Linked DNA regions of Homo sapiens. Each later gene encodes a partner of the first gene's protein in a complex. Each region holds a gene or a part of one and is shown in the gene's direction. Other genes may lie near its edges.

What was found.
Region 2: TMEM231 (region 1) and TCTN1 share a complex: the UniProt entries of both Homo sapiens proteins name them as parts of the tectonic-like complex.
Region 3: TMEM231 (region 1) and CEP290 share a complex: the UniProt entries of both Homo sapiens proteins name them as parts of the tectonic-like complex.
Region 4: TMEM231 (region 1) and MKS1 share a complex: the UniProt entries of both Homo sapiens proteins name them as parts of the tectonic-like complex.

What each region holds. Positions count from the first base shown.
Region 1 is NC_000016.10:75,545,615-75,553,886, reverse strand, and holds part of TMEM231 (transmembrane protein 231), read left to right. Parts: intron 1-7,809; exon of another isoform or gene 7,810-7,932; coding exon 7,933-8,061; intron 8,062-8,272. UniProt on the Homo sapiens protein: Transmembrane component of the tectonic-like complex, a complex localized at the transition zone of primary cilia and acting as a barrier that prevents diffusion of transmembrane proteins between the cilia and plasma membranes.
Region 2 is NC_000012.12:110,616,440-110,624,711, forward strand, and holds part of TCTN1 (tectonic-1 isoform 1 precursor), read left to right. Parts: intron 1-308; exon of another isoform or gene 309-465; intron 466-3,396; coding exon 3,397-3,517; intron 3,518-8,272. UniProt on the Homo sapiens protein: Component of the tectonic-like complex, a complex localized at the transition zone of primary cilia and acting as a barrier that prevents diffusion of transmembrane proteins between the cilia and plasma membranes.
Region 3 is NC_000012.12:88,139,089-88,147,172, reverse strand, and holds the start of CEP290 (centrosomal protein of 290 kDa), read left to right. Parts: upstream 1-5,084; 5' UTR 5,085-5,273; intron 5,274-5,298; exon of another isoform or gene 5,299-5,440; intron 5,441-5,838; 5' UTR 5,839-5,865; coding exon 5,866-5,967; intron 5,968-6,139; coding exon 6,140-6,217; intron 6,218-7,608; coding exon 7,609-7,678; intron 7,679-7,981; coding exon 7,982-8,028; intron 8,029-8,084. UniProt on the Homo sapiens protein: Involved in early and late steps in cilia formation. Its association with CCP110 is required for inhibition of primary cilia formation by CCP110.
Region 4 is NC_000017.11:58,208,561-58,216,255, reverse strand, and holds part of MKS1 (tectonic-like complex member MKS1), read left to right. Parts: intron 1-12; coding exon 13-168; intron 169-1,357; exon of another isoform or gene 1,358-1,417; coding exon 1,418-1,515; intron 1,516-1,868; coding exon 1,869-1,997; intron 1,998-2,386; coding exon 2,387-2,491; intron 2,492-3,165; coding exon 3,166-3,274; intron 3,275-3,821; coding exon 3,822-3,878; intron 3,879-5,233; coding exon 5,234-5,276; intron 5,277-5,531; coding exon 5,532-5,597; intron 5,598-7,672; coding exon 7,673-7,695. UniProt on the Homo sapiens protein: Component of the tectonic-like complex, a complex localized at the transition zone of primary cilia and acting as a barrier that prevents diffusion of transmembrane proteins between the cilia and plasma membranes.

The sequences.
Region 1 (8,272 bases):
ATGTTATCTCAAGACCTGGAGATACATTTCTAAATGATCAGGTAAATGAGATAAAAATATTTGCCGCCAGAAATGATAGCTCACACCTGTAATCCTAGCACTTTGGAAGGCTGAGGCAGGAGGATTGCTTGAGCCCAGGAGTTCAAGGCCAGTGTGGGCAACATAGCAAGACCCCACATTTCAAAAAAATAAAAAATTAAAAAGAAATAGAGAAGTGGTACAATTTGCCCTAGCTTTTCTTCTTTTCTTTTTTTTTTTTTTTTTTGCAACAGAGTTTCACTCTGTCAGCCAGGCTGGAATGCAGTGGCACAATCTCAGCTCACTGCAACCTCTGCCTTCTGGGTTCAAGCAATCCTCTCGCCTCAGCCTTCCAAGTAGCTGGGACTGCAGGCATGCACCACCACTCCGGGCTAACTTTTTTGTGTTTTTTAGTGGAAACAGGGTTTCACCATGTTGGCCAGGCTGGTCTAGAACTCCTCAACTCTGGTAATACACTCACCTCAGCCTTTCAAAGAGCTGGGATTACAGGTGTGATTACAGGTGTGAGCCACTGCTTTGAAGTGAACAGAGTCTGGACTGGAACTCAGTATTTCTTATGCTATATCTTAAAATCTTAGCCCTTATTGCAACAAACTACTTTTATTTTCTAACTTTGAACATAGAGCCAGACTGACGTCAGTCTATCCAGGAAACTGTCCAGAAGGCAAAGGAAACAGTGGTTGTTGATTAAGGTTGGACCAAGTGCTGGGAGGTGGCTTTGCAGTGGCTAATTGGGGGAAATGCTGAAGTCACAAACAGCCTTGCTTCTGCTTTGGTCAGCTCATCCTGGACAGCGTCTCTAAGCTCCCTACATGTTTAATGCTTTGGAAGTCTAGTTTTTGTTGTTTTTAATGAGAGAAGAGAAAAGCAGAGTGACTTTTTCCCCCTCAAGCCTCAAGGAGGCTGACATAGCTCTTGAAGGCATGTGTGGACCCAGAGAATACAGGGACTGAAGGTTATAGAAGGATTCCAGAGGATGAGTGGAGAGTACCGTGTTTCTAAGACACCTGTTTCTTCTCATCCCTGAAATCAGTGTCTTCCTGTCTGTGGTTATCAACTGTTGGCAAGGAGGCAGGTATGGCATAGTTCTCATTGCTTACACCTGTGCCGGCATCAAAACATGCAGAAGGGGCATCATTTCTGTGTAAGAGGTAGGTGTTAGAAAAATAAAAATGCAATTAAAAAGAAGGGGCATCAGCAACCTCAGAGGAAACCCCAGAGACAGTAGTAGAACATTTTTTTAACCCCTGAATTGAATGGAGAGCAAGTAAGGGAAAGTTTGAGAGGCTTTTAAAAACAGGAAAGCTCTCCATAATTTCAAAGTCTGCTTAAGGGCCCAGACCAATGGCTTTTAGTTTCTTTTATGAATTGTTTGTTTGTTTGTTTGTTTGTTTTGAGACAGGGTCTCACTCTGTCACCCAGACTGGAGTTCAGTGGCGCAATCTTGGCTCACTGCAGCCTCCGCCCCCCAGGTTCAAGAGATTCTCCTGCCTCAGCCTCCGAAGGAGCTGGATTACAGGCTCCTGCCACTACGCCTGGCTCATTTTTGTATTTTTAGTATAGATGAGGTTTTACCATGTTGGCCAGGCTGGTCTCGAACTCCTGAGCTCAAGTGATCTGCCTGCCTCGGCCTCCCAAAGTGCTGGGACTATAGGCATGAGCCACCATGCCCAGCTGAATTTTTGTTTTTTGTTTTTGTTTTTCTTTTAATGCTGTATCACCAACATGTTTGATGGCACAAAGGACAAAGTTGCATAGAAAAGTATGGGTTGTTGACTGAGTTAAAGTGTTACTCAAAAGGATGAGGATGTAAAGAAGTTTTAGGAATCCCTGAATCAATTTATTTTGCCTATATTTTTCTTTCTTTTCTTTTCTTTTTTTTTTTTGAGATGAAGTCTCACTCTGTTGCCCAGGCTGGAGTGCAGTGGCGCAATCTCTTCTCACTGCAACCTCCGCCTCCTGGGTTCAAGCGATTCTCCTGCCTCAGCCTCATGAGTAGCTGGGATTACAGGCAGGCACCACCACGGCCGGCTGATTTTTGTATTTTTAGTAGAGACGGGATTTCATCATGTTGGTCAGGCTGGTCTCGAACTCCTGACCTCAGGTGATCCACCCACCTCGGCTTCCCAAAGTGCTGGGATTACAGGCGTGAGCCACTGCCCCGACCTATTTTGCTTATATTTTTCTAAGTAAATAAACATATCTGTGTAAATATGTCTAAATCTAAAAGCTCTTTTAGTAACTTTTTAAAAAGTAAGTGATTAGAAAAGTGTCATAGTTTAATTGGAAATGTTTTTCTTTTATCAGTGGTATATAAAATAATGGTTCATTTTATAAGTAATGGTATCTTAGATTGAAATACAAGGCTGAGCACTGTGGCTCATGCCTATAATCTCAGCACTTTGGGAGGCTAGCCCCTTGAGCTCAGGAGTTCCAGACCGCCTAGGCAACATAGTGAGGCCCTACTATAAAAAATTTAAAAATTAGCCAGGGGTAGTGGTGAATGCCTATAGTCCCAGCTACTCAGGAGGCTGAGGTGGGAGGATCACTTGAGCCTGAGAGGTCAAGGCTGCAATGAGCTGTGATCGTGCCACTGCACTCTAGCCTTTTTTGACCCTGTATCAAGAAAAAAAGAAATAGAAAAAAAAAGAAATACAGGTAGAAAGGTGGAAAGGAACCACGAAGTGGCAGTTTCTGCTTTGCTAGAGACCCACAACTGGTGCCAAAGAGTATTTTTAGCTTAAAAAGAAAGGAGCACCCGGTGATGACAAGTATATGGTGAAATAGACACTGGTATAAACTAGGAAATTAACCTTTAATAAAAGAATATGGGCCGGGCGCAGTGGCTCACGCCTGTAATCCCAGCACTTTGGGAGGCCGAGGCGGATGGATCACCTGAGGTAGGGAGTTCTAGACCAGCCTGGCCAACATGGTGAAACCCCGTCTCTACTAAAAACACAAAAATTAGCCGGGTGTGATGGCAGGTTCCTGTAATCCCAGCTGTTTGGGAGGCTGAGGCACGAGAATTGCTTGAACCCGGGAGGCGGAGATTGCAGTGAGCTGAGATTGCACCACCCATACTCCAACCTGGGCAACAGAGCCAGACTGCATCTCAAAAAAAAAAAAAAAAGAATACGACTTAAATGAATGAAATGTACGCAAACAAAACAGAAACCAAACAAAATTCCAACAAACCGTCAGATGCTGGGAATTCCTGACGGGGAAAAAAGTCACACATCAGGATACTCTGGAAACAATGGCACTTGAATTTCTGGCAATTCCTGCAGTCAGGTGGTGTGCTGGTTATGAGGTATTGTCTCAGCTCCAAACCCACCCTCCTACGCTCAGCTTCCAGGTTCCTGCTGAGATGCTGGAAACCACCTTCTTCCCCTGCAGCTTCCTGTTAGGTTCTGCCAGTAGGAGGCATGATGAGCCTTGTTCTGGGAGTGCAGAAAAAAAGAAATGAAACCAGTCACCACTGCCAGGGTGAAGAACCACTGTGGATGCCACAAACAGGGACAACCAGCAAACAGGAAGGAGCAGGACGCCTCTCCTACCGGCTTCAAGGTTCCCTCTAGTGCATGCTTCCTCCAAGCTCAGAGGTCCTGGCCCCATCTGGGCCGCGGTCCCTTCTTGAAGTCTGAGGCTCAGCTCTTCGAGGCCTCTTCCCTGAACCTCTAAGTTCTATCAGTCCCACCCGCTTCCCCTTCTTCTCTAGTCCTAGGTGTGGGAAATGTTCCCTGCAGCTACTATCTCTGTGTTGCTGGGATATCCCCTTTTTACGTCTTCAGTCCTCTAATACCTATGGGACTATTTATTCCCTATGTTAAATTCCCTCTGGCCAGGTGCGGTGGCTCATGCCTGTAATCCCAGCACTTTGGGAGGCTGAGGCGGGCAGATCACCCAAGGTCAGGAGTTTGAGAATAGCCTGGCCAACACGGTGAAACCCCATCTCTACTAAAAATGCAAAAATCAGCTGGGCGTAGTGGCGCACACCTGTAATCCCAGCTAGTCAGGAAGCTGAGGCAGGAGAATCACTCGAACCTGGGAGGTGGAGGTTGCGGTGAGTGGCGATTGTGCCACTGCACTCCAGCCTGGGCAACAGAGTAAGACTTCGTCTCAAAAAAAAAACAAAAAAATTCCCTCTGACTCTGCTCAGTACATGCGTGTGGATTTCATGTGTATCTCTAAAGGGTTATCCTCCTTTAACCATGAGAAATCTTTTCAGTTAGAGTTCTTATGAGCTATTATAGAAGAGCCCTGAATCAGGAGTCAGCAAACCAAGATCCTTGTCCCACAAGGTCCTAGTCCCAATTCTGTCACTGGGTTTCATAACCTCACCCTCAATTTATCTATCCATATACAGGGCATGAGAGTACCCACATCTCTCCTGGGATATGCAGAGGAATCACGTGGGACAATGAATGGATATAAAAATTGTTCCAAAGCCTGTATATACGTTGTAGATATAAGGTGGTGGTGTGATATGTGAATTCTCTTGGCTAAGTACCAGTTGGAGGTTAGATAGCGACCTAGAATTTGTGTTAAAGAAGTAGTAGCCTTTGAATGCCTGCCTTTGTTAGCTATTGCACATATGTTAAACTTACTTTCAACTAAATGGAATTAAATAATTGATTTATTCAGTGGTCCAAGTGATAACAGAGGAGCACAGCCAAACTTCGCCAGCCCCAGGAGGGTGAGAGTCCAGCTTGGTGACAGGTCATTTGTGGGAGACACATCCTTTCCATCGAAACTTCTCTCCCCCCTCTCTCCACCCTGCTCTCCTTCTCACCCACTCTGCCAGATGCATTGATCCCACGGGTACCCAGAGCACATGTACCTGATTAGCCTGGATCCCTCCTCTCTGAGATGTTCCTGCACCCCATCACTTCACTTCCTTCAGGACTCCAACAAGTTGGGTCATCCTGAATATTTAAAAATTTCTGTTAAATTCTTTTTGGGTTTTTTTGTTGTTTGTTTGAGATAGAGTCTTGCTCTGTCACCAGGCTGGAGTGCAGAGGCACGATCTCGGCTCACTGCAACCTCCACCTTCTGGGTTCAAGCGATTCTCCTGCCTCAGCCTCCCTAGTAGCTGGGATTACAGGTGCACGCCACCATGCCTAGCTAATTTTTGTATTTTTAATAGAGGCAGGGTATCGCCATGTTGCCCAGGCTGCTCTCGAACTCCTGAGCCCAAGCAATCCACCCACCTGGGCCTCCCAAAGTGCTGGGATTATAGGCATAAGCCACCACGCCTGGCCAATTTCTGTTAAATTTTACCTTCATTATTCTCTAATTTTAGCCTGCTTCATTTCTGTCAGCGGCACTTGTCACTGTTTTCTACATTGTCCATCGGGAATGTATGCCCCATTAGGATGGGGACTTTGTCTATTTTGTTTACCATTATAGTCTCATTATTTGAAATAGTGCCTGGCGTGTTTCCAAAAAGTACGTAACAGATCAATGAGTGAATTTAACAAGTAGACACTATTGATGGTGTTGTGCCAAATCTGTCCCCCGCGAACTTGGAATGGAAGGATGTGCACAGGCAAGTATACAGACGTAGATGCCTGGTGCTGCTGTTTTTCAGGAAGATTTGTCCAACCTGCTGTCTTCATTTGGAATTTTTAAAATAATTTTAGACATTTTGGTCCTAAAAAGAGGACCAGATTTGAAGTCACCTGATCTCAAATCCTGTCTTCACCATTACTTGCTGTACCTCTGATAAATGCCCTAATCTCACTCATCCTTGATTTTGTCATCTGTGTAATGGGAAAATACCTGTTCTGCCTGCCTGGGGCTTTACATTTATTGTAAAGATCAAAGGAAATGAGCTTTTCCCCCTCCCACAGTGTGTTGGAGTCTGGATTCTTCTGGCAGTTGTCTCCTGGCCACTATCCTCTGTTGCAAGTTGAGAAATGTGCTCTTTTCTTCCTGTCCAACCCTAAAGATCTAGAAGGTGTGGATCCATCACAGAGAGTTACATAAGATTTTCTACCCAGATCCCAATTGAAGAAAATCCACAGGAGACAAGGCAGGCTCTTTTATTTATTTTTTATTTTATTTTTTTGAGATGGAGTCTCGCTCTGTCACCAGGCTGGAGTGCAGTGGCAAGATCTTGGCTCACTGCAACCTCCAACTCCCTGGTTCAAGCGATTCTCCTGCCTCAGCCTCCTGAGTAGCTGGGATTACAGGCACGTGCCACCACTCCCAGCTAATTTTTGTATTTTTAGTAGAGACGGGGTTTCACCATGTTGGCCAGGATGGTCTCGATCTTCTGACCTCATGATCCGCAAGGCAGGCTCTTTTCATCCTACCTATAATGACTAGTCCATCATTGCCTCAGTAACTTGATCATCAGCCCTGGTAGCAGATATCCCTCCCCGAAGCTGATGAAACAGGGCAGAGAGGAAGTATCCAAGAGAAAAGGGAGGGAGGTTTCTCTAAAACAAGACCTAAGAGAAGGAACATTATTGTCTAGAAAGAAAGAAATAATTGAAAGTTTCTGAAAATTGAGATTTCTTCATTTCAAATGACCTTATTATTAGCCTGAAAAAGCACACACACAAAAAATCTCTTCCTTACGTAATAGTAATGGTGGGAATCAAAATGAATCCATAGATGGTGGATCCAGATGGGAATGCTGCTACACGATAGTAGAATTGTTCTGGGAATCCACAGTGGGAAAGGATCAGTTGTAGCAAAAAGATCCAGAGTTGTGCAGAGGGACCATGTCAGCAGTGATCACTTTTCAGTAACCGTGCTTTCCTGATCATCATTTTAGCATCACTGTTTGGCAAGACTGTGGATGGTAGGAGTGGATACCAGTTTTTTTTCACTGCCTACATATGCTTCATAAGCTGTATTTTGTCTTTTTTCCTCTACAGACCTCTGTCTTCTTTCCTTTCATGCCCGTAATTTATCAAATAGATATGGTTTTAATACTTTGCTGATTTGACATAGCTTCCTTTTTCATTTCATTGATTGCTACTAAAAGATGCACAAGGCTTTCAGGTCCTCACACGAATGATGAGATAAGATCCAACATCAAGAATCTGAAGCAAAGACACTCGTGGTTTCAGAATCTATAAACAGAGTTTGGTAAGGCCGGGTGCGGTGGCTCACGCCTATAATCCTAGCACTTTGGGAGCCTGAGGTGGGCGGATCACCCGAGGTCAGGAGTTCAAGATCAGCCTGGCCAACATGGTGAGACCCAGTCTCTACTAAAAATAAAAAAATTAGCTGGGCATGGTGGTGGGCACTTGTAATCCCAGCTCCTCAGGAGGCTGAGGCAGGACAATTCCTTGACCCTGGGAGGCGGAGGTTGTAGTGAGCCGTGATTGCGTCACTGCACTCCAGCCTGGGCGATAGAGTTAGACCCCGGCTCAAAAAAAAACAAAAAAAAATAGAGCTTGGTGATTTTCTGTTGAGTTTGAGTTTGTTGGAGGAATGCATAATGATTAGGATTAGGTGTTTTTCTATTTTAACAAGTTGACTTCTAGAGACATAGAAGACTATTCTGACATGCTACTTAAAATTTCCATACAAATTCAGGCATATTTGTAAAAAAGAAAAAAATATCAGTGCAAAATAAGCAAGATCACATGAGACAACTGAAAGGCACAAATACTATCCAGATGTTTTTTGTTATTGCCCATTTATTTTGGCCAGTGAACATTTGAAAGGCCCAGATATGAAGTTCAGGGACCATGCACTTTGTGTCTCTCCCCAGTATTAATGCACTTACATCTATCTGCTTTTCTCTTTTAGTGGAGGAGATAATGCCTGTTGTGTACAGCAAGACAGTGGGTCATTGTGTATTTACAGAAGTGATGTGGATTCCTCCCAGACTCATTAGTGACCAGGGCTGCTGGGCCTGTTTGGGTTTCCTAGACTAGAGAAGAAGACAGGAACCAGGATGGGAAGACGGACATGTTACATTTTAAGCTGGAGCTTCCCCTGCAGTCCACGGAGCACGTTCTCGGTGTGCAGCTCATCCTGACTTTCTCCTATCGATTACACGTGAGTCAGTCCGCTGGGAGGCTGTCCTCTCCCTTGTGTCTTTTTAGTAGACCAGAGTCCTTCTTCTGATTTCTAGAAGACCCGCACTCTAGCGGGCCCTCTTCCCCATGTAGTTTGGGATTTAACTTAGGCCAATGGAATGGTTTTCACTAGTCATATTAACTGACATGGGCTATTAATAGCTCAGAAGGTTCTAGGCAGTGTTTCCTGC
Region 2 (8,272 bases), on another chromosome or scaffold:
TTTCACCATGTTGCCCAGGCTGGTCTTGAACTCCTGGCCTCAAGTGATTGCCCACCTAGGCCTCCCATAGTGTTAGGATTACAGGCTTGAGCCACTGCACTCTGCCAGTCACCTGTCTTCACCTTTTTAAAGGACCTCTCTTTAGACTTGTGACAGTAATAACTCATTTGTTAACTGTTCACTGTGTGGCAGGCACTGTGCTAAGCATTTCACCTATGATGTATCTCATTTAATCCTTACAACAACCCCATGATGAGGGTACTGTTATCCCCATTTTTCAGGTGGATAAATTATTTGCCTAATTTTAGGACACGCAACTTGTAGATATCGGAGCAGGAGGCTGACTGTGAGTGGAGAACTGGATGGAAAATTGCAGGTGGCTTCAGGCAGTGTTGGTGGAGAAGAGTGATAACCCTTCATCTTGAATCTGGGCTCTGTTCATTAGTACCCTGCTCTACAAGCCAGGTGTGCAGATGCGATAGGAGGCAAGGGCAGCTGAGTGCTGCTTAGACCTGACAGGGGCTCAACAGCTACTTGGTGGATGATTAAGTACACTCGCATCCTGGGTAGAAACCTTTTTCCTAAGTGGAGTTATTAAACACTATTGCTTCGTCCTTAGTAGTCTTACAGCTGCCTATAAGGGCTTTAAGTTTTGAAAACAAAGCAAGATAGTAATTTTAAACATACAGGGAACCTAAAGCACTTTTAATTTTTTACATTAGCGTGCATAAGTTGTGTCATTTTACTAGGCACATAGAAGAGTTCTCAACTAGAGAGAAGCACTGTAAACTTTAGGGGGAAAGCTTTTGTGTCTTAGACTAAGAAATCATGGCATATTAACAAAACCTTCCCCTTCACCTCACACATTTTTTTTGCAGAGTGCATTATACCTTTTACGGGGTACTATTTTTTTTTTTTTAATTGCCCAGGCTGGAATGCAGTGGCGCAGTCTCAGCTCACTGCAACCTCCACCTCCCAGGTTCAAGCGATTCTCCTGCCTCAGCCTCCCAAGTAGCTGGGATTACAGCCGCGCGCCACCATGCCTGGCTAATTTTTTTGGTATTTTTAGTAGAGATGGGGTTTTACCACGTTGGCCAGGCTGGTCTCAAACTCCTAACCTCAGGGGATCCACTCTTCTCAGCCTTCCAGAGTGCTAGGATACAGGCGTGAGCTATGGGATACATTTTTCTTTTCTCTTTTTCTTTCTTTTTTTTTTTTTGAGATGGAATCTTGCCCTGTCACCCAGGCTGGAGTGCAGTGGCACGATATCGGCTCACTGCAAACTCTGCCTCCTGGGTTCAGGCTATTCTTCTGCCTCAGCCTCCTGAGTAGCTGGGACTACGGGTGTGTGCCACCATGCCCGACTAATTTTTGTATTTTCAGTAGAGACGGGGTTTTACCATGTCGGCCAGGCTGGTCTGGACCTCCTGACCTCGTGATCCACCTGCCTCAGCCTCCCAAAGTGCTGGGATTACAGGCTTGAGCCACTGCATCCGGCCGCTGTGGGGTACATTTTTCTAAAGCTCCTTTTTATCGTGAAATAATTCATACGTACAAATAAGAATGTTGGGTGGACACTAGCAGCATTTGCTTCAGATTCCTTTTTTGTTAATTTTGTTTTTTGGCTTGAGATCTTTTTTTTTTTTTTTTTGAGATGGAGTCTCACTCTGTCATCCAGGCTGGAGTGCAGTGGTGTGATCTCAGTTTACTGCAACCTCTGCCTTCTGGGTTGAAACGATTCTCCTGCCTCAGCCTCCCTGAGTAGCTGGGATTACAGGCGCCCACCACCATACCTGGCTAATTTTTGAATTTTTTTTTTGAGATGGAGTCTCGCTCTGTCGCCCAGGCTGGAATGCAGTGACGCGATCTCGGCTCACTGCAAACCCCGCCTCCTGGGTTCACGCCATTCTCCCGCCTCAGCCTCCCCAGTAGCTGGGACTACAGGTGCCCGCCACCACACCCAGCTAGTTTTTATATTGTTAGTAGAGACGGGGTTTCACCGTGTTAGCCAGGATGGTCTCAATCTCCTGACCTTGTGATCCGCCTGCCTTGGCCTCCCAAAGTGCTGGGATTACAGGCATGAACCACCGCGCCCAGCCTAATTTTTGTATTTTTAATAGAGACAGGGTTTAACCATGTTGGCCAGGGCAGTCTCAAACTCCTGACCTCAAGTGATCTGCCCGCCTCCCAAAGTGCAGGAATTACAGATGTGAGCCACCGTGCCTGGTTTGAAATCTTCTTTTGAAAAAGAAAACGTTACAGATAAGATTGAAGGTTGATCTTACTTCTTCCCTTCCAGCAATAATTGCAACTATAAATTCATTCTCTATTTTTTAAAAGGGTTTTCTTGTCCTTATTTGACAGAATAAGATAGAGAATTAAAAATCCAGATAATCATCTTTGTTGCAAAGCGGCAAAGAAAAATCATCCTTATTAATGATTAAAAGTTGACCAGGAGTGGTGGCTCACACCTGTAATCCCAGCACTTTGGGTGGCTAAGGCTGGCAGATCACTTGAGGTCAGGAGTTTGAGACCAGCCTGGCCAACATGGTGAAACCCCGTCCCTAATAAAAATACAAAAAAAAAAAAAAAGTTGGGCGTGGTAGTGCATGCCTTTAATCCCAGCTACTCAGGAGGCTGAGGCAGGAGAATAGCTTGAACCCAGGAGGTGGAGGTTGCAGTGAGCCAAGATTGCACCATTGCACTCCAGCCTGGGCAACAAGAGCCGAAACTCCTTTAAAAAATAAATAAATAAATAAAATAATTAAAAGTTGTGAGGTGGGGGAGATTCCTACCCCGCCCTCATACCTTATTGTCTAAATCACCAAAGACATTCTGAGCACCTGAGCCGGTATGATTCTTGGCCAAGGGTCTGTGAATATGAGTTCAGCTTTAAAGCAGCAGGTTATACGTGAAGAGGGGGCAAGATTGAAAAGTCTCTTTCCTGAAGGTTTAAGTGGGCCCTTCCTCTGAATCGTAATCTCTAGAGGAGGGGCTTAAGGACTTTGGAGTTTTAAACTGGTGGTTCTTATGGTCAGGCAAATGGTTTAGGGGTGCTTGTTCTTAAACTTGTCTAATTATAAGCATCACCTGGAAAGTTTCTGAAAACTGCAAATGCCTGGGTTTCATATTCAGCTTACGAAATCAGCATCTCTGTAGGCAAAGCACTAACAGAACTTTCCAAGCGAGTCAGATCATTAGCCACTTTGGGGAAACCTCTGATTGTGGGATGCTCAAACTGACTCATTTCCACTTCACAAATTTCCCCCAAAGTGCAATAGGAAAAATAAAATGGATCTTTTTTATGAAATTGACTTATGGTACACTGTGGTGGCAGGGGGCAGTCACCACCTGCTGATGGTGATGTTCTGGATCCTACCCCTCTTTTTTCTGCAGTTGCTGTTCTCTGTGTCTGTGACTTATCCCCAGCACAGTGTGACATCAACTGCTGCTGTGATCCCGACTGCAGCTCCGTGGATTTCAGTGTCTTTTCTGCCTGCTCAGTTCCAGTTGTCACGTAAGTTTACGTATGACACATGCAATTTTGAAAAAATTTGACCAGGATAATACAATTTGGAGAAAGGGAAAACTTTCCCAGGCTTAAAAACCCAAACCTGATTTCCAGTGTTTTACGTCGTTCTGAAGCCATACCGTCCAAACAAATATGTAAAAAAGTAGCTATCCCTGGCAGGGCGCAGTGGCTCACGCCTGTAATCCCAGCACTTTGGGAGGCTGAGGTGGGTGGATCACGAGGTCAGGAGATTGGGACCATTCTGGCTAACACGGTGAAACCCCGTCTCTACTAAAAATCCAAAAAAATTAGCCGGGCATGTTGGCGGGCACCTGTGGTCCCAGCTACTCGGGAGGCTGAGGCAGGAGAATGGCGTGAACCCGGGAGGCAGAGCTTGCAGTGAGTGGAGATTGCGCTACTGCACTCTAGCCTGGGTGACAGAGCGAGACTCAGTCTCAAAAAAAAAAAAAGTAGCTATCCCTTATTTGCATTCAGCCAGGTGACTGTGCAGGCAAAAGAGAAGAGAGAATATACATTAAAATAATGTAATGAAACCTCTGTGTTTGAAGATTGAATTACATTTCAATTTGAGTTGTAGACAGTGGTCACATTTTTTGTATCAGTGAATTAGTATAGCCTAGGGTGAAAAGTGCATTTTAATTTCACAGCTTTTGTTGTGGACATAGTATTTGTAACAAAAAATTAGATAAGAAATCTGTACTTTTCTGATATGTAAATCTACCAGGAATTCTCACAGTTCGCATTGTATAGAACAATGAAAAATGACATTTCCAGCTGATTATAAGGTAAATAAATAATCTGTTCTGAATGATCTCTTATAATTGAGGTTTCAAGGCTTCTTTTTTTTTTTTTTTTTTATGAGATGGAGTCTCGCTCTGTTGCCCAGGCTGGAGTGCAGTGGTGTGATAGTGGCTCACTGCAACCACCGCCTCCTGGCTTCAAGCAATTCTCCTGTCTCAGCCTCCTGAGTAGCTGGGACTACAGGTGCACGCCACGATGCCTGGCGTATTTTTAGTAGAGGTGGGGTTTCACCATATTGGTCAGGCTGCTCTCGAACTCCTGACCTCAGGTGATCCGCCCTCCTTGGCCTCCCAAAGTGCCGGGATTTCAGGTGTAAGCCAACGCGCCCAGCTTCAAGGCTTTTTGAAAAACTAGGAGCACTTAGAAGAGGCTCATTAATTCAGGATGGGACCAACTTAGTATTCAGAGATAGCTAATTTAAATTTAGCCTTATAGCAAGTTTTAGCAATTGATACTTGATAGGTGAACCCTTTTAAGAAGTACAATGGGTTTTTCCTGTGAGAAACTATTTTATTGACCAATGGGATTTTGAGCCTATTTCTAGTATTGTAAAAATGCTCAGAGAACAGGGCAATGTAGTCAGATTAATTTTCTGGCTACCTGGCCTGTAGCATGTTTCAGTATTTGTTGAAAGTCATTCTGTTTTCCTCCCTTTAGTAAATACAGGAGCCTGAAAGTGACATTTTTGCTCCAACTTGGGGCTATTTTTTTTTTTTTTGAGACAGAGTCTTGCTCTGTTGCCCAGGCTGGAGTGCAGTGCCTCCATCTCGGCTCACTGCAACCTCTGCCTGCTGGCTTCAAGCAATTTTCCTGCCTCAGCCTCCCAACGAGCTGGGACTACAGGCGTGTGCCACCATGCCCAGCTAATTTTTTGTATTTTTAGTAGAGACAGGGTTTCACCGTGTTAGCCAGGCTGGTCTTGAACTTCTGACCTCGTGATCCGCCCACCTCGGCCTCCCAAAGTGCTGGGATTACAGGCGTGAGCCACTGCGCCTAACCTGGAAGATCTCTTTTCTCCTTAACCATTAGTACCTAGTAGAGCTCCTGCCACATAGTGGGCCCTCGTTAAGAATGAGTTGAATTGGCTGGGCATGGTGTCTCACGCCTGTAATCCCAGCACTTTGGGAGGCTGAGGCATGTAGATCACTTGAGGTCAGGAGTTTGAGACCAGCCTGGCCAAGATAGTGAAACCCCGTGTCTACTAAAAATACAAAAATCAGCTGGGCGTGGTGGTGGGTGCCTGTAATCCCAGCTACTCAGGGGGCTGAGGTGGGAGAATCGCTTGAACCTGGGAGGCAGAGGTTGCAGGAGCCAAGATCGCACCATTGCACTCTAGCCCGGGCAACAAGAGCGAAACTCCATAAAAAAAAATAATAATAATAATAATGAGTTGAATGGATGAATGAATTTCTCCCTTCCACCTCTAACTGATTTCCTAGTGTCCCTTGTTGACTTCCTCTACCATTAGTCTTTTAGGCCGACACCAGGCCAAAAACCTGGAGGCTCCCCTGACCCTTGCCTCTTCCTTTCCTTTTCCTGTCTCAGCAGTCTTTCCTTTCTCCCAACCTTTCTTGAGTACCTCCTGAATGCCAGCACCAGGGACATAAAGATGAGTTAGGCACTCTCCTGCCTTCAAAGAGCTTACCGTCGAGTAAGGGAGACAGAGGAGTGGATGGCAGTTTCTACATCAAGCACGATGAGAAGGCAGAGGAATGGCATCTAACTCAGCCCCACTAAGGAATGCTCCCCAGAAAACAGGAGCTGAGCTGGGTCCTGAAGGACACGTGGAAGATGGTCAGCATGGACTGAGGGGAAGGGCATTCCAGGCAGAGGGAACTGCGTGGACAGAGATGGGGGGATGTGGGATGGCCTGCTTAACTGCAGGTAACTCAGTGTGGCCAGAAGAGGGGTGGGGTGAGAGGAGTGTAGGAAAGAGATCAGGGGTCAGGTCCCCAGGGGCCTTGTGTATATGCTAAGGGGTTTGGACTCTGTCCTGAAGTCCACAGGGCCTGGGTTGTAAGAGGATCAGATTCCCATCTTATGTAATTCTGCAGCATCATATGCAGTGGATCACAAGGCCAAGCCTGGTGGCAGAGAACCAAGTAAAAAGCTATTGCAGATGCGGATTAACGGTTTCCCTCCCCATCCTCCCCAAAAGCTGTGACAGTGGGGCTAGGGAGAAGTATCTAGATCTGATGATGATACTGAAATACTGCACAGGATTGGGGAGGTGGCTGACTGGAGGGGAGTAAGGAATCCCATTCTGTGGAGCCTTCCATCACTCTAGCCCTCGTGGTCGTCCATCCCTGCTCCTGCTTTATGAGCTCACACCTCATCCTGTCAAGCACTCACTAAAAGACCTTCAGAAGTTCTCATTATCTATAGGCTTCTTAGCCTGGATTCAGATTCATTCCCACCTTCTTTCAGAGCCTATCACCTGCTACCAGCCATCTCAAATCCACTCCAGCCCAACCTTGGTACTCAGAGTTTCCCAAAGACCATGAGTCGTTACCCAGCCTTGGCCATTGCCGTTCTTGCACTTGGATTTGCTTCCCATTCCTACTGTCTGTCTGATTTCTACTTATCCTTTAAGGCCCAGTAAAAACGGAATGATAATATCCAGTCTTGGCAAGGGTACAGGGAAATAGGCACTCTTACTACAGTGTTGGTGAGAATGTATATTGTGCCCTTCTAGAGGGCAATCTGGGAGTGTGTCTCAGAAGCTTTAAATAATGTTACCTGCCTTTTGGTTTAGCAGTTCCAGTTCAGGAAACATATCCTAAGGAAACAACTGGAGACAGTCATAAAGATGTATGTATAAGGTTGTCATTATAGCATTACATATAATTGGGGAAAATTAGAAACCTAAACCTAAACCAACGATCATAGCTCGCTGTAACCTTGCTCCTGGGCTCAAGCAGTCCTCCTACCTCAGCCTCCCAAGTAGTTAGAACTATAAGCATCTGCCAGCATGCCGGGCTAATTTTTTCTTTGTTTTCTGTAGAGATCGGGGTCTGTGTTGCCCAGGCTGGTCTTGAACTCCTGGCCTCAAGTGATCCTCCCCAGCCTCCCAAAATGCTGGGATTACAGGCATGAGCCACGGTGCTTGGGCTGTACCATATCCATATCTATATTGGTTAAACAAATTGGGGTATTAATAGGCTGGTATACGATGATGAAGCCACTTATAATATTGTAAGTGCATATTAGGCATTATATATTAAGTGAGAAAAGCCTTAAAACAGTATGTAGAATATGGTCCCATTTTTATTATGACTATCTCTATACTATTATCTGTCTGTCCAGCTATCTGTCTATTTTTTTTTTTTTTTAGAGACAAAATCTCACTTTGTGGCCCAGGCTGGTCTTGAAATCCTGGCTTCAAGTGATCCTCCTGCCATGGCCTCCCAAAGTACTGGCATTGTAGGCGTGAGCCACTGTGCCCAGCCTCTATGTTTTTTTGAGATAGGTCTTGCTCTGTCACCCAGGCTGGAGTGCAGTGACACGATCATAGCTCACTGTAACCTTGCTCCTGGGCTCAAGCAGTCCTCCTACCTCAGCCTCCCAAGTAGTTAGTACTACAGGCATCTGCCAGCATGCCGGACTAATTTTTTCTTTGTTTTTTGTAGAGATAGGGGTCTGTGTTGCCCAGGCTGGTCTTGAACTCCTGGCCTCAAGTGATCCTCCTCAGCCTCCCAAAATGCTGGGATTACAGGCATGAGCCATGGTGCTTGGCCTGTATCTGTATCTATAGCAAATTGATTGGGATTTGTCAAATCTGGGATTGGTTGAAGACTTAACTCATAACTTCTTTTTTTTTTTTTTTTGGGAGAGAGAGTCTCACTCTGTCGCCCAGGCTGGAGTGCAGTGGCACGATCTTGGCTCACTGCAACCTCCCAGGTTCAAGCAATACTCCTGCCTCAGTCTCCCCAGCAGCTG
Region 3 (8,084 bases), on another chromosome or scaffold:
ATGTTTAAGAGAATCTAACATCCTGGAGACTTGATACATTAGCTGTTAAATTATTGTTAAATTAAATAATTTAAAATAAATTAAATAATTTAAAAATATATAAAAATATACAATAATATGCATAATAAACAATATTAAATTATGCATCTGATTTTTTAGAGTAACTGCAACCTTTAAGAGAATCTGACATCCTGGAGACTTTGATATATTAGCTGCATAACTATAATTTTAAAATATACAATAATACGTATAATAAACATATTAAACATAATAAACATATTAAACTACTGACTATGTAGTTTCTGGATTCACAACTATAGTTGAAAAGTATAATAATTAGCTAAATACACAAATAGTATTGGAATTTTTATAAGAACTTGGGATTTGCTATAGTTTCAAGTTTTATTTCCTAAATTTAATCAGTTATTTAAGTACTGAGAAAGTTTTCTTTGTTAAGTTAGGCATCTGAAGTACTTAAAAATGAATACATTCAAAATAATTCAATTCTTCAATATATCTTTATTTTACATATATATACATATATATGTATATATATATATACACACACACACACACACACAAATATATAGGTATGTATATGGTTCTTCTGTTAGTTGTGCCTGGGGTCACTCATGTGCTTATAGTTATCCAGTGGCTTGATTAGGGCTGGATGGCTTTTAAAGGGTAGATTTCTCAGCTTTGAAAACTAGTCTCTGCTACTTATTAACACATCCTCTAATAGGTTATCTTAGGCTTCTTAAATGATGATCTCAGGACAACAGGAGGGCAAGGTTCAATGCACAAGCTCTTTATAAGGCTCTATTTAGTGCGTATTTTAAAAATTATTATTCAAGCAAGGTACATCCTGAATCAATGGGGAAGAAGTTATAAAAGGGCCAAGATAACAGAATTTTTAAGATTCCCCAAGGGAGCATAGTATGAGAGAAAGGGAGAGAGAGCATGTTACGAGCTCAGTTGTGGAGTCATCTTAGGTTACTTCCAAGAGCCACCTGCAAAGTAGAGGTTGCAGGGAAGGGACAGATTTACACAAAGGCATAGGCAGACGGGGACCTGACTCACTGGGGGCCATTATTGCAAACATGTAACACACTATTCTTGTTAGTTGTGAGAACTTCTAATTTTTCCTAGGCACAGAAGCAGACTTACAGATGCAGTTTAAGTGGATGGGATGACTGATTTCTGTTTGCTTACAAAAATGGGGTGTTACTATATATGTGCACAAAATCCAAGTGCAATTGGAAATGTGAAAGGAAAATAAAACTTGGGATCTCAATTCATTATGTCTATAAGAAAAAATTAGGGTGAAAGCTGAGTCATGCAAGAAACTGCTCTCCTTTTGTTCTTAGCAGACAGCTACACATCAAATGTTAAATATCTCCACAGGTAGCTACTTTAGGACATTCATCTTATCTCACGTAAAGTGCTGATTTACCACCCCACGTGAATACATAATATCTATTTCCCTCTCTGCTCTTTTTCTCTTGCAACACATAGATTACCATATCTACCCTTTTTCTCTTCCAATGGATTTTTCCCCTTTAAATACTGAAGCCCTCAAAATCATCTTAGAGAAAGGAAGAGACTACAGACTGTTTCTGTGATTCAGTGTTTATTTCTTTTCGGCATGTCCCTAACCTTGGCAAAATAAACTTCTAAATTGATTGAGACCCGTCTTAGACACTTTTTGGTTCACAAAGACTTCTCATGAGCTACATTATAGATATACAAAACTAAATACAATCCCTTCAATAAAACTGTAAATTGTATTAAGGCAAATTGTTTTGCCTTAATTTCATGGACAAGAATGAGTGTGCAGCAAGCAGATACTTGTCTTCCTTCAACATGAGGAAACTGGAAAGATCAGTAGGGAGTCAGTGTGAATTAAGCCATTAACCATGGCTTAATTTGCCATGAAGATAAGGCAAAACAAAATGTTTAGGACACACAATGGATACAAAATGGCCATGCTTTGTTTTAGAGATCGGAGAAGTAAGCTACTATGACTTTTCTTGGTAAGTCAGCAAAAAGGAACTAGAAGTAACATCCAAGGAATATAAATTCATTGCTACAGAGAACAAAGGTAAGCAATAATAAAAGGTGAGGCCTTCTTGTGAAGTGATTTTGGTCAGATAAAACTGTTCACAAAAGCCTAGGGCAGAAAGAAGGCAGGTCCAGACAAGTGTTCTTATAACAAGGCCACTTACAACATTGTCACATAAGTCCCATTTCTTGATGAAAACTGACAGGTGCAGAAAATCTGACGAAAAATAATAGTTTTGCCAATTTTCCTCAAAAATATACAGTGAGTTATTGAACTAGAACCTGAGTTAAATTTCCTGACTCACACTTAGGTACAGACGACAATGCATAAAAACTTAGTTGACTTGTTCAAGCCAGAGCTGACTTGTTCACTGCTGTATCCCCAGTGCCTAGCACAGGAAACAGGATAAAAAATACTGTTAGAATGAGTTAAAGAATAAAATTTAGGTAAGATTTTGCTTTTAGTTACAATTGTCACTGAGATCTAGGTTACAATCTTAGCTTCATCAATTATTACTTAACTTCTATGAACTTGTTCTCACTTCTGAAAAATTAGAATAAAATTTACCATTAGAGACCAGGCACCTTGAGTTTATGAATGTGAGCAAGAGGGTGGTGGCAGAAGGGTAGAAAAGAGTAATACAGACAAACGAAACTTGTAAGTGAATACATAAAAATAAGTTATAACGAATGAAAAAAAAAACAGAAGAAAAGGTGTTAGAGAAAACAGACTTCTATTATGAAAACAAACACGCAGTAGTCAGCATAGTGTATGACATAACATGTGCTCAGTAACTATTAAATTTCATTCCTACCATTGTCAGAGGTATTTGAATCACAACAACTCCATCTTGAATAGGGGCTGGGTAAAATAAGGGTGAGACCTACTGGGCTGCATTCTCAGGATGTCTGTCAGTCATTCTAAGTCACAGGATGAGATAGGAGGTGGGCACAAGATACTGATCATAAAGACTTTGCTGATAAAACAGCATGCAGTAAAGAAGCCAGCCAAATCCCACCAAATCCAAGATGGCGAGAAAGGTGGGACGTCTGCTCGTTCTCACTGCTCATTATACACTAATTATAATGCATTAGCATCCTAAAAGACACTCCCACCAGTGCTATGACAGTTTACAGATGCCATGGCAATGTGAAGAAGTTACTCTATATAGTCTAAAAAGGGGAGGAACACTCAGATCTAGGAATGGCCTACCCTCTTCCCAGAAAACTCATGAATAACCCACCCCTTGTTTAGCATATAATCAAGAAATAACTATAACAATCCTTAGTCTACCACCTCCAATGGGGGTGTATGCACCTCCAATTCTTTCTTGGCGAGATCCAGGAGCCCTCTCCTGGGGTCCAGATCAGAACACCTTTCCAGAAACACCATCCCATGTTAAATTATGAATTAAGAACACTGAACATGAAGAATGTTTAATTCAAATTATTGAGTAAACACTTACAAAATTAAAATATAACATTTAATAAAAATAGCAAGATTGAGGAACAAGCACTTCACAAATATTGGTTTCCCAGAATGTCTGAGGAGGTGTATAGAAGTTAAGAATATGTCCTCCAGCCAGAGAGATCTGTGTTCAATCACACTATTTAAGTTACTTAGCTTCTCCAAGCCTCAGTTTCTTAACTCAGATGGAAAATGAGGACAATGTAAGCACCTATTTCACTGGATTGTAAGGAAGAATAAACAAGATAATGAATAGTATTTGGCATATAATCTTTCAGAAAAGTAGTAAAATTGTCATTCCTATAAATCTAACTAATGTCTTTAAAATTCATCTCACAAAATCAGTATCTTTTTATTTTGTACTGAGCTACTTATTTTACCCAAATTGGGGGTTTAAAAAGAAACTCATTACTTATTTTCGAAAGGAAAATTTACTGTCAAGTACAGTAATTTTTTTTTTAAAGCAGCGTTTAAAAAAAAAAAAAGACAAAGCACTGGTCCAGATAGTTGGAAATGTCATTTAGATTTAAGTCTACAGCTTCTTAGGAAAGTTAGGTAGAGATGTATCATACTCCAGCATGATTGTGAGCAGACGAGCAGGATGAGCAAAACTTGCACGAGTAAGAGTGGTAAACACCAGAGAAGGCGCTTTCATGGAAGGGCACCCTAGGTAACCAAGCAAGTGGCAACAATAGTACAGGTGAGTCCTTGGATCCCTTCTCTCTCCACCCCCGGCAGTGGTCCGGACAAGTACTAACCTCTCCTCTCTAGAGCCTTGACTTTATACTAGCTCCACAACCATCAAGCCCCACGATCCGCGAAAGGAATGGTGCTACAGGTAAGGCGGGCGGGGTCGGGATGCCGAGACCTCTTGTCAATTCTTCGCTCGCCCCCAAACGAGGATCACGGCTGCGCGGCTCTCACTCTAACTATCAAGACAGATTCTGATACTAAACAAGGCTAAAACTTTTTGTTTTTTCCTTCTTACAGAAGGCACTACCCTGGACGCCGCTTGCAAACGCCTGAAGAGAAGGCAGGGTGTTCCCACTTTTTCAGAATGGGACCAGGCCCTACGGCCCCAATAGCAGAAGCTTCTCTAACCCAGGACTGCTCCCCTCAATTCCTCCCAATATGCTGACCGACAGCTCGACCTCACCTGGGGGCGGTTCCGCCAGGGGATGGCTTAGGAAAACCTCAGGAAGAGCAGCCCAGCGAGTGACGCCACTGAAACCACAGTCATGGTCTACCTCGTTCAGGCCACCAGTTTGCAGGCGCCTGAGCCGCTGCTCCTCCCGCCTCTCGGTCCTTCCCCGCCGCCCCGGTACCGTCGCAGTCTTACGCGTTGCATGCCGGGAGCGCCTTACCTCCTCTTCTCAGGGACTTCAGTTCCCAGCATGCAGAAGCCTCAGGCAGAACTGCACTCTGGGATTTGAAGTCCTCGTTCCACGCCTTCTCATCATCCTGAACACCGAGCTCTGGGACTCCGGCGGAGAATCTAAACGTAAAGCATCACCCACGGTCGTGAACTGTAGGCTCTCCTGGCATCCGGGATCTTATTCTGGCCTTGGCGGAGTTGGGGATGGTGTCGCCTAGCAGCCGCTGCCGCTTTGGCTTGCTCGGGACCATTTGGCTGGACCCAGAGTCCGCGTGGAACCGCGATAGGGATCTGTCAGGGCCCGCGGCCGGGTCCAGCTTGGTGGTTGCGGTAGTGAGAGGCCTCCGCTGGTTGCCAGGCTTGGTCTAGGTGGGTGGATCCTTGTAAGCAGGATTAGCGAGTCACTCCACGCTCAGGTTCTTTAGCCTGAGGGCCCGTGTGCCACAGCATAGCTACCCCGCCCTTCCAGCCTCGGGTCCCTAATACTGCCTTGCTTCGGTTCCAGTTTCCGCCGCACAACTTCACTCATTCCAAATGTTAATTTCTGCGTTTTTTTTCAGCCCCAATTCTGTTTCTCCAAATCAGGGATGATTGTCGGCCTTCCACAGACCCTCGCGCTTGCCAGGATTAGGGTGTTCGCGCGCATTGTGGGTAGGGGTGTGGAGGAAGGGATCCAGAAATCTTAAGTATTAACTTAGATTAGTGTTAGCAAGGAAGCCGTCACATTTTATTTAGCCGGGACACTCTGACAGTTTGTGCCGACTGCTATTTTTGATCAAGGCTATTTTGCCCACTTGTCTATTTTGTGGCCCAATTGTCTGTTTTGCTAACATCAGAAAGTTATAATGAAATAATCTGCAAAAAATGTAAGGTGCTAGAAAACCAATAATACTGTGTACCTTGAAAATGCTAATATACACCTGTTTTGTTACAGAGGTGGAGCACAGTGAAAGAATTCAAGATGCCACCTAATATAAACTGGAAAGAAATAATGAAAGTTGACCCAGATGACCTGCCCCGTCAAGAAGAACTGGCAGATAATTTATTGATTTCCTTATCCAAGGTGCTTAATTGGTCAATAATAATAGATATATACATTAACTTATGATTAATTTATTAATAAAATATGAATTTATTTTTTTCAGGGACAACTATAATTGTCACAATCTGGAAGTGTTCTTATATTTTGCTTGAAGGTTATAAAATATAAAACAGTTGCTTTTCTGTTTACTTAGGTGGAAGTAAATGAGCTAAAAAGTGAAAAGCAAGAAAATGTGATACACCTTTTCAGAATTACTCAGTCACTAATGAAGGTTTGTATGTAGTAGGTTTTAACTATAGGTTTGGCTATTAGTGGAACTATAAAAATCTGTTCTTATATAAGGTAATCTTTGTGAAAATACCTGGTAATATCTACATCACCACTAAAAAATGCAATATATTTAAATGTGAATTAAGTATTTTAGTGTATAAAACATTGCTAGTTTCTACTTAAAGTTTCTAAAAGGGTGTGTAGGGGAAATAGAATGAGTATGTTGAAAAGTAACATAAGGAAATATATCTTGAGGTCCAAATGACAAATGCAGACAATGACTGCTATAGGGATTTGTTAAGAGGGGAAATGATTTAAGAGATGTCAGAAGACTTCACAAAGGATCAATACTGAGGAGTAGTGTTAGATAAGTGGAAGGCAATGCAGTGGTAAGATAGTAAGGGAATTCTAGAGCTGTTGGTTACCATAAATAAATACTGAGAACAGGAAATATGTTTATTCTTTATATTTGAGGAAACAAGGTGCAGCAAGTTTGTAGCAGACTGTAGAGAAAACAAATCTTGGGTAAGTACTTTGAGATAGGTTGTTGAGGGCCTTAAAGGTGTATTTTATGCTATCAGCAATTGAGAAGGCAGTAAAGGTTTTCGAAACACAATTGATAGGTACAAAAATACACCTTAAGAAGGCAAAACTGAGTATATTATGTAGGACAAACTGAAGGAAATTGGAGCTTTGTAGACATCACATTATAGCGGAGTTTAAACCTGAAATTATGGATTAGAATAATAGCAATTGGAACAGAAAAAAAGTAGTGGAAAGACATTACAAAGGGAGATGTTGCATTACTGGATATAAGACTTGAGGACTTGAGGTAAAAAGGAGAATCAAAAATGTTTCATGCTATTAAAAATCTAGAAATTGTAGTCTTAAGTAAGAAAATTGCCTGGCATGGTGGCTCACGTCTGTAATCCCAGCACTTTGGGAGGCCAAGGCAGGAGGATTGCTTGAGCCTGGGAGTTCAAGACTAGCCTGGATAATATAGTGAGTCCTTGCCTGTACGAAAAAATTTGCCGAGCATGATGGCACACCAAGCATGATGGCACGCCAAGCATGATGGCATGCACCTGTAGTCCCAGCTACTCAGGAGACTGAGATGGGAAGATTGCTTGAGCCCAGGAGGCAGGAGGTTGCAGTGAGCTGAGATTGTGCCACTGCACTCCAGCCTGGGTGACAAAGTGAGGCCCTATCTCAAAAGCAAAAAAAACAAAAACAAAAACCAAAAACTATTTATTCAGCAAATATTTACTGAACGTCTCCATGTGCCAGCCATTGCTGGCACTAAGGATCATAACAAATAAAACAGAATTTTTATTTTCAGTGCTTACATTCCAGTATAAAGGCATATTGAAATAACCTTTTTTTAATGTTTAGATGAAAGCTCAAGAAGTGGAGCTGGCTTTGGAAGAAGTAGAAAAAGCTGGAGAAGAACAAGCAAAATTTGGTAAGCACCTTGGAAAAAGTTTATTATGGTATTAAATAATGAATTCCATTTGTTCATTAAACTGTAGAAAATTAAATTATATTCTATAAAATATATATATTCAGTTTATTTTTAATATATAACATTTAATAATAAATATTTCTAGACTCCTATTTTATGGATCTGCCATATAATACTTTTTGTTACCTTATAATCATGATGGACTCTTTTAAAAGAATTAATTTTGTTATTGAAATTTATTTAAAAGTTTGTTTTGTGGTAACTAATCAATTAAAACGTTTTTCTTTTTTTTTAAAAAAATAGAAAATCAATTAAAAACTAAAGTAATGAAACTGGAAAATGAACTGGAGGTATGTCTTTTTGTATTCCCTAGGATGTAATTGTCATTAATTTTATTTTGAATTGT
Region 4 (7,695 bases), on another chromosome or scaffold:
TGGTAACCTCAGTTTGAAGTAGATCTGTACCAAAATGAAACAGCCTGTCAGAGTCCTTTGGATTATCAGTACCGTCAGGAGATCCTGAAGCTGGAGAATTCGGGTGGCAAGAAAAACCGACGAATCTTTACCTACACTGACTCTGATAGATACACCAATTTGGAGGAGGTATTGTTCTTTCTAGGGTCTCATAGCTTCCATCTTTGCTTCCTCTAGCTTTTTTGCCTCACTGAGTTCTGTGTGTTATGTCAGAGCCTAGTAAGGGGAGACAAGTAGCCTGTCTAGGAACTGCTGTGAGCTGCTGCTGCTGGCAGCCAGCCTGGAATAGAATGGGCACAGTCTACAGGTGGTGAGGCTGCTGCTCCCTTCTCTGCCTGCTAGAGGGCCTGGGGGAGCTGCCAGTATCTCTGATTATATGCTTGCAGAGTGCATACTGGGAGAAGTAACCACTGGGCTTGACTTCCTCCATGCATCATGAAAAAAGACAGGTAGTGGAGTCTGGAACAATATAGATAAAATTCATCAGGGGATTCAGCCCAAACTCTGAGTATATGGGTTTGAAGAGGAATTCAGTATAGCTATGGAAAATGGCTTATGTCCTCAATTTGCCTATGACAAAAATACCCTTGTGACCTTGTTTTACATTTTCTTCAGTCACTGCATTTCAGTTGCTTCTGTCTTCTCAGTAAGATTTTAAGCTCCTCGAGGGTAGAGCCTATTTTTTTTATTTTTGTCTATGACTCTGTAGGTCTCTGCAAGGAACAGGTATTCAATAAATGTTTTTGAAAGATTGACGTGCTTTCATTATTAGAGCTGTGGATTGATAACATTAGCTGGGCATGGTGGCATGTACCTGTAGTCCCGGCTACGTGGGAAGCTGAGGCGGGAGGATCACTTGAGCCAAGGAGTTCAAGGTTGCAGTGAGCTATGATAGCACCACTGCACTGCAGCCTGGGTGAGACCCTGTCTCTTAAAAAAATATATAAATTAAATAAAATTTGGGTTGTCTGTTTTGGAAAAGCAAATGAAAATGCAGTTAGTGCTCAGTTACCATGTGAGGATTTCCCACAAAATGCTTGTATCCCATTTGGCATTTTCTAACCACCTTGTTAACTTCAACATCTACCAAGCACACTAACCCAACTTTTTGTTGGTTTGTGCTCAGAGAATGCAGACTGATTTTAATATTAACATAAATAACTCCTTTTTAAAATCCAAAGGCAAACCATGATGTGGTAGAAATCTTCTTTGGGTTGTTTGGCTACTGCTCCCTCCGTTAGCATGTATAATTGTGAGGTGGCGGAACCTGTGGGGTTCAGGTCCTGGATGAGGTTTCAGGAGGAAGACTTCCCTTCAGGTACTTGGCTCCATGTGGCCCTGACCAGATGGCGTACACAGGGCTGCTTGCTTTTCCCAGCACTGTCAGAGAATGACCACTGCAGCCAGCGAGGTGCCTTCATTCTTGGTCGAGCGAATGGCAAATGTCAGGCGTCGCCGGCAGGACAGGCGAGGGATGTGAGTGCGGGCATGGGATGGGGGACAAGCTTTTACTTTTTATTTCCTAAAGTTGGGTAGTTTTGCATTTTTATCAGTGGTTATATATAGTATTCAAGTATTACTTTGTAATTAATTTAAAAAATAAATATAAAAATATAAAATATCTTCCTCACTCTTCATGTGGACATTTTTCCAAAGTGCCTCAGAGAGAGGGAAGGGATGTCATTTCTGTTTGTCAAATATTTTGGCTCTTAAAAAACAAAACAAAACAGTATGTCCACTAGCTCAAACTTCCCATTCTGAAGTGGCTCTCCACTGGGGTGCTCCATTGGGGTGTGCCAGGGAAGTGACCTTTCTGTGGTGTCTCCCAGGGAGGGCGGCATCCTCAAGTCACGCATCGTCACCTGGGAGCCCTCAGAAGAGTTTGTCAGGAACAACCACGTCATTAACACCCCTCTTCAGACAATGCACATCATGGCAGACCTGGGGCCCTATAAAAAGTGAGTGGCGCTTCTCACTGCCAGCTTAGAGCCTCATCCTTTTCTCCTCTCACCAGCTCTCCCCTTCCTGTTATTATCATCCTAGGTTATAGGGGAGGGAGGGACTTTTTCTTCCTTCTCTTCTTAGTTATGAGTGAAGCTTCTCACTGCCAACTCAGATCCTCATCTTCTTCTCCTCTCACCAGCTATCCCCTTCCTGTTATCATCCTGGGTTATAGGAGAGGAAGGGACTTTTTCTTCCTTTTTTTTCTTAGTTGTACTTGGAAGAAAGTTTTACCATGACAGCTCTCCCTATAGCCTCTGTTCTCTCCCCTGCAGTGGGCTCAGTATCTCTTCTTGTTTCCCTGAAGGACCATTGACCTCAACCTTGGTGTTTTCCTGATTTCTAGGCTTGGCTATAAGAAGTATGAACATGTCCTGTGTACTCTGAAGGTGGATAGCAATGGTGTGATCACAGTAAAGCCTGACTTCACGGGCCTCAAAGGACCCTACAGGTGAGGAGAGGAAGAAAGGGGTAGTGGAGACTGGCATTCCTTCCCTTGGTTGCACTTTTTGTCCCTAGTCAACTAGACTGTCAGAAAGTCCTTCATCTGTTCTAACTTTTACATTCCCAGGCAATGGTTCGTATTCTGTTCCAAGTCATAGGGCCTTAGAAAACCAGGGACTCCTTTCTCAGAAAATGTGCAACTGCACCAATTTGAAAGGGATCACTTCAGTGGTACAGTTAAATGACAGTGATTCTCTGTGCTGCTGAATGTAGGACCTGACCAGAACAGAGTGGGGTGAACTCAGCCAGGCTTTTCCTGTGGGCTGACTGTTCCTCATCTCTGTATCTTGGAAATGACAGAAATGTAAATTAGAAATTATCTGGCCCAACCTGTCCATTTTTCAGGTGAGAGAACTGGGTGGCAGGAATGTTGTGCCTTACAGTTTGACTGTAACTTCAAGCCAGAAATGGGCCCAGAACCTATACTTTCTGAGTCTAGTCTGGTGCCCTCTCTGCTTTACCCTTTTGTTTCTCTCTCCTGGTCGTCAATACAGCCACTTTTATCATCATATACTTTAGTGAGGTGTATGGCCCCTGATCGCTCATCCCTGGGCTGGGAGCTATCCCAGGGCCCATCTCTCATTATTAGAGTTGCTCCTTTCTGTGGTTTTGACCTTACAGGATTGAGACGGAGGGGGAGAAGCAGGAGCTGTGGAAATATACGATCGACAATGTTTCCCCCCACGCACAGCCGGAGGAGGAGGAGCGGGAACGGCGAGTGTTCAAGGATGTAAGCGCAAGTTCATTCCAAGTATCCAAGGGATGAGCCTCAGTGCCTGGAGCTGAGACCATTTCTGAACTTGATGTCAGCAGTTGCTCGGGAAAAGCCTTGCCCTTCATGGCCCCTTCTGACTTAGGCAGCATTGCTGACATATCAGACAGAAGTTTTTGATCATATTATAATAATAACAATAACCATTTATTTGAGCATTTACCATGTTCTGTGCTAGGTACTTTACATACCTTATTTCCTTTAGTCTTTACAACAACCCTTTGAGGTGAACACTTATTACCACCTTATAAGTGGGGAAACCGAGATTGAGGAGCTAAGTAGTCTGCCCAAGGTGGCATAGCTTGTAAGGGCGAGAGTCAGGATTCTGCCCCAGACCAGCTGACTCCAGGGCCTCTGCTTCACGGTAAAATGGCGGTGAGTCAGGTGCTTACGCCTCCAGCTCTTGCTGACCCTTCCCACTATTGCTTTTCTTCTTCCCATTCAGAACTGAACTTTGGTCTAGCTTGGGTTGCATCTTGAGTTTTGGTTTGGTTTGTTTCCTCAGCTTTATGGCCGGCACAAGGAGTATCTCAGCAGCCTCGTAGGCACCGACTTTGAGATGGTGAGTAGCTTGGCTTCCTGCAGCACTGTGAGCTGTGTTTAGCCGGAGCATTCTGACTGTGGATGAGTTACACTACCTCTCTTAAAGGCCCAAAGGTATACTCTACAGTGTGAAAAGGAAGTCAAAGAATAGCACATATAGTCCTTGTTATGTGTTTTGCAACATTGCATGTTGATAGAGAACTGTTAATGCTAAGAAAAAGGTCTGAAAGGCTATGCACATGCTGTGGGTGGCTTTCTCTGGGGAGGGTGGGATTAGATGTGGTAGAAGGGTAGTGGGTGGTGAGAGGGATATATTAGGGATTTTTGCTTTTTATTCCCTAAACTTAGGTAGCTTTGAATTTTTATCAGTTGTAATGTATTTAGGTATTACTTTATAATTAATTTAAAAAATAAATATAAGGATGAAAAATGTCTTCTTCACCTTTCATGTGGATATTTTTTCAAAATACCCCATAGAGAGGCAGGGGTGCCATTTCTGTTTGTCACATATTTTGGCTCTTAAAAAATATAGGCCTGATGCGGTGGCGCATGACTATAATCCCAGCACTTTGTGAGGCCAAGGTGGGAGGATCACTTGAAGCCAGGAGTTTGAGAGCAGCCTGGGCAACATAGTGAGACCACATCCCTACAAAAAAAAAAAAAAAAATTAGCAAGGCATGGTGATACATACCTGTAGTCCCAGCTACTCATGATGCTGAGGCAGCAGGATTGCTTGAGCCTAGAAGTTTGAGTTTGCATTGAGCTATGATCACACCACTGCATTCCAGCCTGGACAACAGATCAAGACCCTGTCTGAAAAAAAAAGAAAGTGGTTTAGTTCAGCTATTCTGTTGTGCTGTTCTTTGTCTTTTCTCATTCTAAGAGTTCTATCTCTAGACCTGGAAACAAGGATAGAATTACTTCCTGGTCTCCCTCTCTTTCTCTGAAAAATTAACCTTCACTATTTCCATATTGCATAAGCAACAGATATTCAGTATTTAAAAGTTAGATAAGACATGCACAAATAATTAAAAAAGAAAACTCCCTGGTTTCTTGACCTCAGCCATCTAAAGGGAAGAGGGCGTTCTGGCTTCCCATTGCACACCACAGGACAGTTGCTGTTGCTTGAATAATTTCCCATAGTGCATTGTCCTCACTGCCATTTAAATTATGTACTTTCCCCCTACATTGTGAATCTTAGGAATGAAGGAAACAGATCTGTGGAGAAGTGTCAGGGTGGGGAGAAAGTGCAGTAGTGACACCCAGGGCCTGACCCCTAGTGGCAGGTCGTCTGCAGATTTGTAGATGGGGCTGGAGGAGAAGTGCCAATTCCCTCCAGGCCTGCTGATCCTTTCCCACTTCTCTTCACCTTAGACTGTCCCAGGTGCCCTCCGGCTCTTTGTAAATGGAGAGGTCGGTAAGTGTCTTGCTAGCATAGATCTCTTGATGCTTAGGCACGTGCCTAGATGGAGCTGTGAATAGTCTCCTCCACTCTGGTAGAGGCCTTGTCTGCTGTACTTGGGAAACTCAGTGGTGAGTCTTTCCTGGAAACGCAGAGGGTTCCTGGCCCTCAAAAGACTTGCTCTCAGGGTGTGTAGGCCCCTCAGGATTGGGTTGGGTGCTAAGGGTGGTAGGAGAAAAAGCTAAAATAGCTTCCTGTTTTCTCTCGTAGTTTCAGCCCAAGGCTATGAGTATGACAATCTCTACGTCCACTTCTTTGTAGAATTGCCAACTGCTCGTAAGTAATATTCTTAAGTCTCTCCTTTTATACCCATTCAGACAGATCTAGAGGCATTTGGTCAGGCTTCCTTTCCCACTCCTCTGCTGAAACTGTTACTGTTCTTTTCAAGGTCATAGATCACATCCACTTTACCAAACCCAGTGGAGACTTCCCTGCTTTCACCTCGCTTGACCTTCCTGAAGCATTTTCCAGAGCCCACTGTGCTGCATGACACACTTCTCTGGCTTCTGGCTCCACACTTCTCTCTCCTATCTCGCTGGTGGCCCCTCATCCTTCTTGGGTGATGCCTTCCCTTCTGTTGATCTTAAACCGTGAGAGTACCCACAGCTAAGCCAAGGCCTTCTGTTACTCTCTGTCTGCAGTCTTCCTGGGCAACGTCATCCATCCTATGGCTTAAATACCATCAATACGTCTCAGACTCCCAGGTTTCTGCCTCTAGCCTTAACCTTTTCCCTGGACTCCAGACTCATATCCAGTTACCTCTTTTGTCATTTCTGTCTAACATGACCAAAAAGAACTCTTGATTCCTCCTCTTCCCTCAAACCTCTCCTCCCTGGTCTTCCCCATCCTAACAGAATGGCAGTGTCATCTACTGAGTTGTTGATGCCAAAAACCTAGGGAACATCCTTGATCCCTCACTTTCCCTAGCTCCCTATAGCCAGCCAATCTGTCAACAGTTCCTGTCCGTTCTGTCTTCAAAAGCTGTTGTGAACCTATTTGTTCTCTCCAGCACCCTACACCAAGCCACCACCATCTCTTGTCTAGGCCAGTGCATTCAACTTCTGATGTATCCCCCTGCTTCCTGCCTTGCTCCCATTTGCCGTTGATTTGCCACAGACACCAAAGCCAAGTTGAGCTTTAAAAAATGTAAACAAGTTATGTCCCTTTTGAGCTGAAAACCCCAACAGCTTCCCCTCCCACTTAGAGTAAAATGTAAACTTGATACCCTGAATGAGCTGGCCCCTGCCTATCTCTTCCATACAACCTTCCAGTCATTCTTCCCAGCCAGGTTCATTCCCACCTTGTAGCCTTTTAAGGGCCGTTTCCTTTGTCTGAAACCCTTTCTGCCATATCTTAGCATGGCTGGTTCTTTCTGAGTTTAGGTCTCAGCCTGTGTCGCCTCTGAGAGGCCTTCTCTTACCACCCAGTCTAAATGAGCCTCCCAATCACTCAGTCCCTTCCCCGTTTTGTTTTTAGTATAGCACTCATCACTACCCAATAGTCTCTTGTTGGTTTGGTTTTTGTCTGTCTCCCTGCTTCCCCCAGAATGTCAGCTCCATGAGAGATGGGGATCTTTTCTATCTAGTTACCAAGATACCCCTAAGATATACTAGCACATAGCAGGCACTCAGTAAATGGTAAATGAATGATTGATTGTGTGAATAAATGAATAAAGAAACTGTCCGCCCCGTCTGGGAAGTGAGGAGCGCCTCTGCCCGGCCGCCCCATCTGGGAGGTGTACCCAACAGCTCCGAAGAGACAGCGACCATTGAGAATGGGCCATGATGACGATGGCGGTTTTGTCAAAAAGAAAAGGGGGAAATGTGGGGAAAAGAAAGAGAGATCAGATTGTTACTGTGTCTGTGTAGAAAGAAGTAGACATAGGAGACTCCATTTTGTTCTGTACTAAGAAAAATTCTTCTGCCTTGGGATGCTGTTAATCTATAACCTTACCCCCAACCCCGTGCTCTCTGAAACATGTGCTGTGTCAACTCAAGGTTAAATGGATTAAGGGCGGTGCAAGATGTGCTTTGTTAAACAGGTGCTTGAAGGCAGCATGCTCCTTAAGAGTCATCACCACTCCCTAATCTCAAGTACCCAGGGACACAAACACTGTGGAAGGCCGCAGGGACCTCTGCCTAGGAGAACCAGAGACCTTTGTTCACGTGTTTATCTGCTGACCTTCTCTCCACTATTATCCTATGACCCTGCCACATCCCCCTCTCCGAGAAACACCCAAGAATGATCAATAAATACAAAAAAAAAAAAGAAAAGAAAAAAGAAACTGTCTTTTTCTGAATGACTTGCTTTCCTCCCAGGCGAGCTTACTATATTTGGTCTTTGGCTTTCAGACTGGTCAAGCCCAGCATTCCAG